Homo sapiens: one gene and its partner. The protein of the gene in region 1 purifies or fractionates together with the protein of each later gene. This does not show direct contact. Each region holds a gene or a part of one and is shown in the gene's direction. Other genes may lie near its edges.

Evidence for each region.
Region 2: the proteins of NHLH1 (region 1) and CLPX purify together in Homo sapiens (affinity purification with mass spectrometry; one large-scale study listed by BioGRID and IntAct). This does not show direct contact.

Annotation. Positions count from the first base shown.
Region 1 is NC_000001.11:160,369,298-160,374,178, forward strand, and holds the end of NHLH1 (helix-loop-helix protein 1), read left to right. Parts: intron 1-1,259; 5' UTR 1,260-1,434; coding exon 1,435-1,836; 3' UTR 1,837-3,549; downstream 3,550-4,881. UniProt on the Homo sapiens protein: May serve as DNA-binding protein and may be involved in the control of cell-type determination, possibly within the developing nervous system.
Region 2 is NC_000015.10:65,178,843-65,183,144, reverse strand, and holds part of CLPX (ATP-dependent clpX-like chaperone, mitochondrial precursor), read left to right. Parts: intron 1-2,940; coding exon 2,941-3,101; intron 3,102-4,093; coding exon 4,094-4,211; intron 4,212-4,302. UniProt on the Homo sapiens protein: ATP-dependent chaperone that functions as an unfoldase.

The DNA of each region.
Region 1 (4,881 bases):
CCACTGTATGTATATAATACATTTTGTTTATCTGTTGTCTATTGATGGACATTTGGGTTGCTTCTACCTCTTGGCTATTGTGAATAGTGCTGCTATGAACATGAGTGTGCAAATATCTCTTTGACACCCTACTTTATTTGTATATATACCCAGAGGTAGGATTCCTGGAGCATATGGTAGTTCTATTTTTTATTTTTTGAGGAACATTTATACTGTTTTCCATAGTGGTTGCATCATTTTGCAATCCCAACAAGGCATAAGGGTTCCAATTTCTCCACATCCTTGCCAAGACTTATTTTTTGTTTGTTTGGTTTTTGTTTTTATAGTAGCCATCCTAATGGGTATGAAGTGATATTTCATAGTGGGTTTGATTTGCATTTTAATGATTAGTGATGTTGAACATTTTTTCATATGCTTGTTGGCCATTTGTATAAAATCTTTGGAGAAATGTGTATTCTAGTCCTTTACCCATTTTTTTCTTAAAAAATGTTTATTTATATAAATTTATGGGGTACAAGTGCAATTTTGTTACATGCATAGATTGCATAATGGTCAAGTCAGGGCTCTTAGGATGTCCATCACCTGAATAACATACACGGTACCCATTCTGTAATTTCTCATTTCACGCCCCTCCCAATCCCTCCTTTGCCCATTTTTAAATTGGGTTATTTGATTTTTTGCTGTTGTTGAGTTGTAGGATTTATTTATATGTTCTGGATATTAACCCCTTATCAGATATATAATTTGCAAATATTTTCTCCCATTCCATAGATTGCCTTTTCACTCTGTTGATTATGTTCGTCAATAAATTAAAGTCTGATGTGGTCCCGTTTTTTCTATTTTTGCTTTTTGTTGCCTGTGCTTTTGGTGTCATTTCCAAGAAATCACTGCTGAGTCCAACATCATGAAGGTCTCTCCCTATGTTTTCTTCTAGGAGTTTTATGGTTTTAAGTCTTTAATCCTCTTGCTCAGTTTTAACCTGCCTGGTGTATCCTTCTCATCACTTCTGTTCCTTTCCTGTTACTCGTTTTCTCTTCCCTTCTTACTACCTTTCGTCCTCCTCTTCCTTTCACCCTGTCCACCTGCCTCTCTGTCTCTCGGCCTCTCCCCACCCCCCGACCCCCACCAGTTTCTGCTGTTCTTCCCTCACATTCACAGTTCCTTACCCCTCCCAGCCCATCTCAAACCTGCTTTCCCACCTCTGAGCTGAGCATTCCCTCCTCCCTCCGCTGCTATCACTTCTCTCTTCTCTTTTTCAGGCTTCAGACTGGCACCCTGACCATGGAACCCTGAAGTGGCAGTGACTTCTAGAGCTCAGTGGCAGACCCCACGACCCTTCCTCCCCCTTCCTCCCCCTCCCACCACCAGCTTTCAAGCTCCCAGAGGGAGGGGTGGGGAGGGGATCCTGATCTCACAGGGCAGGGGGCTTCCATCATGATGCTCAACTCAGACACCATGGAGCTGGACCTGCCGCCCACCCACTCAGAGACTGAGTCGGGCTTCAGTGACTGTGGGGGCGGGGCGGGCCCTGATGGTGCCGGGCCTGGGGGTCCGGGAGGGGGCCAGGCCCGAGGCCCAGAGCCGGGAGAGCCTGGCCGGAAAGACCTGCAGCATCTGAGCCGCGAGGAGCGCCGGCGCCGGCGCCGCGCCACAGCCAAGTACCGCACGGCCCACGCCACGCGAGAACGCATCCGCGTGGAAGCCTTCAACCTGGCCTTCGCCGAGCTGCGCAAGCTGCTGCCTACGCTGCCCCCCGACAAGAAGCTCTCCAAGATTGAGATTCTGCGCCTGGCCATCTGCTATATCTCCTACCTGAACCACGTGCTGGACGTCTGAACTCAGCCTGTCTCCCACCTCCCGGGCCTCTCTGGGGCCCCTTTCCACCGCTCACTGCTTAGAAAGGCCGCATCCTCCCCGAGCCCTTATACCTTGGCATGGAGTCCCAAAGGCCCTGGGCACAGGCAGAGAGCCCACCGGCTGGTCATGAGGGCCTCTTCCTTTCTCTGACCCAGGCACCTCGAGGGCTATTCTCCTGGGTTCCTTCCGGGGTTTATTGCTGAGGCCCAGCTGTGCAGAATTGTTTGCTAGTGTGGTTGGTATGGAATCCTTGCTGGCTTTACTAAGCCAGCCACACTTGGAGTCTGCCCCCAAGCTCTCTCACTGAATGCTGCCTCTTCTACCCCTATGTCCAAATTTTCAGCCACCACAGACCTCAGCTGTGTATCCTATCTGTTCTAGCTTCTCCTGCCCCTGGTGGGGATGGGCTGTCAGAATTGCAAGGGAGGAAGGCTGGGGTTAGAGTGGGGAGTGGGCTTCTTCCTCCAAGATCTCAGTCTCTCAGTGCTTGGCAGAGGGGTGAGGCCCTGGGGAGGCAGGGGTTGGTGCCCTGACTCCTGTGAGGGGAATCTCAGTAGCTGGGAATTATGGAAAAACTCTTCCTGTTTCTGTCCATCTTGTTCCTGTGGCTTAGCACATACAGACCTCAGATCTTACTTGGTAGTGAGTGCCTTGCCCTCTTTGAGCTATTTGGCTACTTCCCTGTCCCTCTGACTCCTACTGTCCCAATTTTCTCCCTCCCTGTGTGTCACTAGAGAAAAAAAAAAACAAAAACCTAGATTCCGGATTAGGGGATGACATCCCAAACAGCCCGGAGTATTTGCAGAAGGCTCAGGCAACGAGTGGGCCACATCTCACTTCTGCTTCCTCATCTCAGCCCACTCTGAAAATGTGCAGCACCCTCACTGGTTCCTCCCCCCAACGCAAGGAGGATGCCCAATTGTTGCCCTCTGAAAATGCACAGTTCTCCTGGCCCTAGGACTTACTTATTACATTTTTTTCTCTTTCCTTGAGCTGCCTTTGGCAAGGGAAGAGACCCCCAACTCTGCGCCCCTACTCCATGCTGCTGATCCCCACCTGCGCACTATAGCTCAGGGTCAGCAGTGGAATGAAGGGCCTTAGAACCTGCATAGAAGAAATGAACTCACTGCATTTCTGTGCTCCCTCCTCCCTCGCACCAAACTCCTAGCTCTACAAGTATATTTATTTATTTATTTATTTATTCATCTATTTATTTACTTATTTATTTATTTATAAATATTGCTATTTATTGCCGAGTTGTGCACTTTGGGGTAGAGTGAGGGGCTCCCAGCAGCTCTAGCTGGGTCTCTCTTGCTTCCTCCCTGCTTACGCCTTTCCTTTTCTTGCTCCTTCTTCAACTCCTGGTGTGTGTGAGCATGCCCTTTGCTTGCCACACCATATCCTTTCCCCAGATCCACCTGTCCTGACACTCTAGTCCTCCAGGATAGTGCTCCTCCCCCAGCTCCAGGGCTCCTGGATGTCCTTCCTCAACTCCCTCCACCCCTAGACAATCCTACCTGGTCCCATCTGCCTCTTTTCTCTCCCCAGCCTGCCCTGTGACCCTTGCCTCTTCCTGATACTCCCAAGAGCAGGCCCCAGGGGTCTGTGTCACATATCTCTGTGTGATTCCTTCTGGTTGCATCCCCAATTTCATACAAAAAGAAAAATAAAAGTGACCTCGTTCTAGCACCAGGTATGGTTGTGGCTCATTCAATTGGGTTAGGAAGCTGGCCTGCAGGTTATGGTAGGGTGGGCATTGAGGGTCCTAGGCTTCGTAGGCTCTTCTGATGGGGTCAGGAGAGCTCAGTTTGGGGAACAAATGAAGACAGAGAAAAGGGGCCACAGGGAAAAGAGGTGCAGGGGAGAGTATAACATACAGGTCCAAGATCTCCTCACCAAAATCTGGGTGCCAGATACTCCCTTCTTGGCACTAATTTAGTGACACTATCTGACTTCTCTGATGTTGTGCTTCCGCTCCTGCTCTCTATGGCCTGAGAAGGAGGTGAATATTTCGGTGGAACCCAAGTTAAACATGTGTCTGTGGGTCCATGCTGCTGGGAAAAGCTATGGTATGAAACTGAGACATTGCCTTCCCCTTTATTGTCTCTAGGCTGGGTCAAAATTCCCTGCAATCTCAGTTCTTGGCCTATTTTGTGTTCCCCAGCCTTAGGATACTGGGGAAAACAGATGGCAGGCCTGGGACTCAGAGAAGAATATGGACAGGGATAAAAAAAAAAAAAGAGTGCTGAAGGGACCCTCAAATGAATTTATAGATGGGGACACTAAAGCTCAGAGAAGGGTAGGGTCTTACCCAAGGCCACACAGCTAACTGGGGGCACAACTAAGGCCCAAATCCAGGTTCTTTCTACCATATGCTGCCAACTCCCCTCTGCCTCCCTAAAATGACCCAGGCTGACAGTTAGCCCTCTTTTGGACCCCATATTTTCATAGGTGCATTGATAAACTAGAGAGGATTTAGGGTTGTGTGGCGAAGAAACCAAAAGGTCTGGAGACCACTTTATAGAAGAAATAGTTGAAAAACTGAGGATATGTGTCTTGATAAGAGTAGACTTGGGGGTAATATGACACCCATCTTTAAATATTGAAAGAAGAATCAAAAATGGATATTCTGTGGGGCCCCAGTAGGCCGAACAAAACCCGTGAGTAGAAGTTAGAAGAAAGCAGATTTTAATTTGAAGAAAAATTTTGCAACACCTGGAGCTGTCCAGCAATGGCACTGACTGCCTCAAGAGGAGAACTCCAAATAGAGAAGCTGGAGAGTCAACCACACGCAGAGAAATCATAGAGCACATTGCTGCCTCAGATGGAACACTGGCTAGGTTCATTAGAAGATCCTCTCCAAACTTAAGGTCATACGAGAAGGCTGAAGGCAAACAGCAGGAGGGAAATGCAGAGACAACTTTCAGTCCCTGAAATATTTTCTTTTTTCTTTTTATCTTTTTGAGACAGAGTCTTGCTCTATTGCCCAGGCTGGAGTGCAGTGGCGGGATCTTGGCCCACTGC
Region 2 (4,302 bases), on another chromosome or scaffold:
TTGCCCGGGCTGGAGTGCAGTAGCGCGATCTCGGCTCACTGCAACCTCCGTCTCCTGGGTTCAAGCAATTCTTCTGCCTCAGCCTCCTGAGTAAGCTGGGGTTACAGGCGCGCGCCACCACGCCCCACTAATTTTTATATTTTTAGTAGAGACGGGATTTTGCCATGTTCGTCAGGCTGGACTCCAACTCCTGGACCCCAGGAGATCACCCGCCTTGGCCTCCCAAAGTGCTAGGATTACAGGCTTGAGCCACCGCACCCGGACTAGTATTTCTTTTTAAAAACAGTTGTTCTGAAATTTAGAAAGCTTTGTCTGTATGATAAAGTTCTGTAAATAGTGAAACTTAAATTGTCTTTTCTGGTTGCTGCCAGGTAATCTGGTGAAATATACTTTACAGAAACACTTCTCTTTTTTGGCTTTCAGAGCTTCACCTGGGGTTTACAGGCCTCCAAAGGGTCCTTGAATAGAATTCAGAGATTCTGTGAACTTTATTTTCACTAAGCTCTAACTGAAACACAACGTTTCCTTGGCCTATGAATGTGGGCAACACATCCACAGTAGTCTTAGAAGTGTCTGTGGATTTGTCATCAATCAAAATCAGAAATATTTTCATATCACATTATAGTTGCTGATATTTCAGAATATTGTCCATACTTTTTGCTACTTTGAAATCATAGTAATTATTTAAAAAGCTGTTAGATCTTATTTAATTTTGCTTGTTAATAAAGAGGCATATTTTAAAAATTTTTTGATAACTACTTCATTATAATTTGTTTCCTTTGTTATGTATTTTATTTTATACATTTAAAAATATTATTCTGAGAAGATCTATTCAGAGGCTTCACCAGACTGCTTAAGGGGTTCATGGCACAAAAAGTGTTAGAAATCCCAATTACTTTGCTACAGAGCTTTATCATTTTTATGAGGATTTTATGATTGGTGAATGGTCATTTTGATTGATTGCATCTGTCACTCTCCCTCAATTACTTTTTCTTTTTCTTTCTTTCTTTCTTTTTTTTTTTTTTTGAGACGGAGACTCTGTTGCTTAAGCTGGAGTGCAGTGGTGCCATCTCGGTTCACTGCAACCTCTGCTTCCTGGGTTCAAGCGATTCTTCTGCCTCAGCATCCCGGGTAGCTGAGACTACAGGCGCGTGTCACCATGCCCAGCTAATTTTTTGTATTTTTAGTAGAGATGGGGTTGCACCGTATTAGCCAGGATGGTCTCGATCTCCTGACCTTATGATCTGCCCCCCTGGGCCTCCCAAAGTGCTGGGATTACTGGCATGAGTCACTGCACCTGGCCCCCTCAATTACTTTTTCTAAGCCTACTTTTGGGATTGATACTATCTTTATTTATTTATTTATTTATTTATTTATTTATTTATTTATTTATTTTGCGACAGAGCCTCGCTCCGTTGCACAGGCTGGAGTACAGTGGCGCAATCTCGGCTCACTGCAACCTCTGCCTCGTTCAAGTGATTCCCCTGCCTCAGCTTCCCAAGTAGCTGGGATTACAGGCACCTGTCACCACGCCTGGCTACTTTTTGTATCTTTAGTAGAGACAGGGTTTCACCATGTTGGCCAGGCTGGTCTTAAACTCCTAACCTCAAGTGATCCACCCACCTCAACCTCCCAAAGTGCTGGGATTACAGGCGTGAGCCATCACACCTGGCTCCTTCAATTTTTTTATTGTGGTAAGATACATATAAAATTTACAAGACTTAACTATTTTTAGTGTATAGTTCGGTAGTATTAAGTACATTGATACTGTGCAACCATTGCCATCATCTTGTGAAACTGAAGCTCTGTACCCATTACAACAATAACTCTCCATTTTCCCCAACCCCCAGGAACCGCCATTCTACTCACTGACTCTATGATTTTGCCTTCTAAGTACCACGTGTAAGTGGAATAACACAATTTTTTAAAGAACTTTTTTTTTTTTTGAGACAGAGTCTCCCTCTGTTGCCCAGGCTGGAGTGCAGTGGCATGATCTTGGCTCACTGCAACCTCTGCCTCCTGGGTTCAAGCAATTCGCCTGCCTCAGCCTCCTGAGTAGCTGGGATTACAGACGCCTGCTAGCACACCCAGCTAATTTTTGTATTTTTAGTAGAGACAGGGTTTCACCACGTTGGCCAGGCTGGTCTCGAACCCTGGGATTACAGGCATGAGCCACCGCGCCTGACCTTAAAGAACATTTGAAGTTTGTTTCCATTGTTACAGATTTTTTTTTTTTTTTTTGAGATGGAGTCTCGCTATGTCACCCAGGCTGGAGTGCGGTGGCACGACTTCAGTTCGCTGCAAACTTCGCCTCCCGGGTTCAAGCGATTTTCCTGCCTCAGCCTCCCGAGTAGCTGGGATTAAAGGCGCCCACCACCATGCGTGGCCAATTTTTTTTTATTTTTAGTAGAGACGGGGTTTCACCATGTTGGCCAGGCTGGTTTTGAACTCCTGACCTCTAGTGATCCACCCGCCTAGGCCTCCCAAAATGCTAGGATTACAGGGGTGAGCCACCACACCCGGCCCAGATAGTATTCTTATATAATAACAGATGAGTTGCTGTCAGATGTTTATTCTCATTGGTAGAAATAATAAGAATATAGGGCATAAATGGCCTTTTTCAAAATCTTACAGGTGAGGCAGATGTTGAAGTCCATTCAAACTTTGAAAAAGTTATGACGTGGGTGATCTTGCCTTATTTCCAAAGGACACATACAGAAAGAAACACCTTTATTTATTTAGAATCTTTCAGAGGCCCAGACCTGCTGGCCTGTTTTTGAAAGGACTTTGCCTCCGTTGGTGTCATTTTTTTTCTCTCAGTTTATACTACTGTGAAAATGATAGCTTTTTTTCAACCTCCTTTATGCTCAAGGAATTTTTGTTTCCAGGGGATTTATTGAGGCATGTCTATATTTGATGTAGATTTCCTTTTATTTTCAGGTATTTCTGGTGGTCGCATTCATATGTCAGTTTTAGGAAGGCTTGGGACATTTGAAACTCAGATTCTGCAAAGAGCTCCTCTTAGATCCTTTACAGAAACACCAGCATACTTTGCCTCAAAAGATGGGATAAGTAAAGATGGTTCTGGAGATGGAAATAAGGTAATTATTTTATCTTATTGGCATCTGTACACATTGTGAGTTCCCTCCTTTAAAAAAATATAACAGTACTGTCTCTTACTGGCTTATATGTTTTCTGTAGGAAATATGAGATAGCTAAAATGATCTGAATAATTTTATGTAATTAGATGTTTCATTTTGAACCTTAAAATACTTTTATAAGCATTGCACATAGTAAGCAGTAATTAAAATTTCTTACACCCCAAAGTAGTAAAGAAGTGTCATTAAATGACAGTCAGTAGGATTGAATTAGGAATAGCCATCATTTCCTGCTTTCATATAACTCTTATAACCCATGGCAGTATAAACCTCACTTTATCCTCTACCTAAAAATTTCAGATTTGTGGTATAACTTAATGTTGGGCTACTCTGGTAGCCTAAAAATTTCATATTTCTGGTATAACTTTATGTTGTAGCTAGTATAACTTATGTTGGTAGTTGTATTGAGTCAGTGACTTAACAGTTTTTTTCATTACGTGAATTTGACTAACACTTGAGTTAATTTTATATGTTAGACAAAATGTGAGACACTTACATATCCATACTTAACAGTGACTCTGATGTGAGTAAAATTATTCCCATTTTAGAGATGAGAAAAGTTAGATCTAAGAATAGTCAGAGTCACTACCTACCATGATAATAACTCCTGATTCAATTTCATTGAAATGTAGTTTTTTACCCTTAGTAAATTTTCTAGTGCCTGAGTCATTGAATGAAAGCTGTTTATTATATATGTTGGCACATGTTATACAAAGGAGGACTGCAGATATATATGTATTTACTAGAACTGATTTGATTTTTGAAGTAAATAGATCTTCTGACACCAGTAATAGAATTATAAAATATACTAATAATTTCATCCTAGAAATATAGAAGATTATAAAATTAATTACAAACAGTATTGTTTACATTTAAGTTGGTTGCCTGAAACTAATAATTGACACTCTTCCTTTTTTCTCCTTCATAAACGTTAGAAATCAGCAAGTGAGGGAAGTAGTAAGAAATCAGGCTCTGGGAATTCTGGGAAAGGTGGAAACCAGCTGCGCTGTCCTAAATGTGGCGACTTGTGCACACATGTAGAGACCTTTGTATGTAAGTATTACATCTTCTACTGTTCTTTTTTCCCTACATTTTCTGTAAATTACTAAGTGTATAAAAATATGTAAATTATGTAAAATGTATA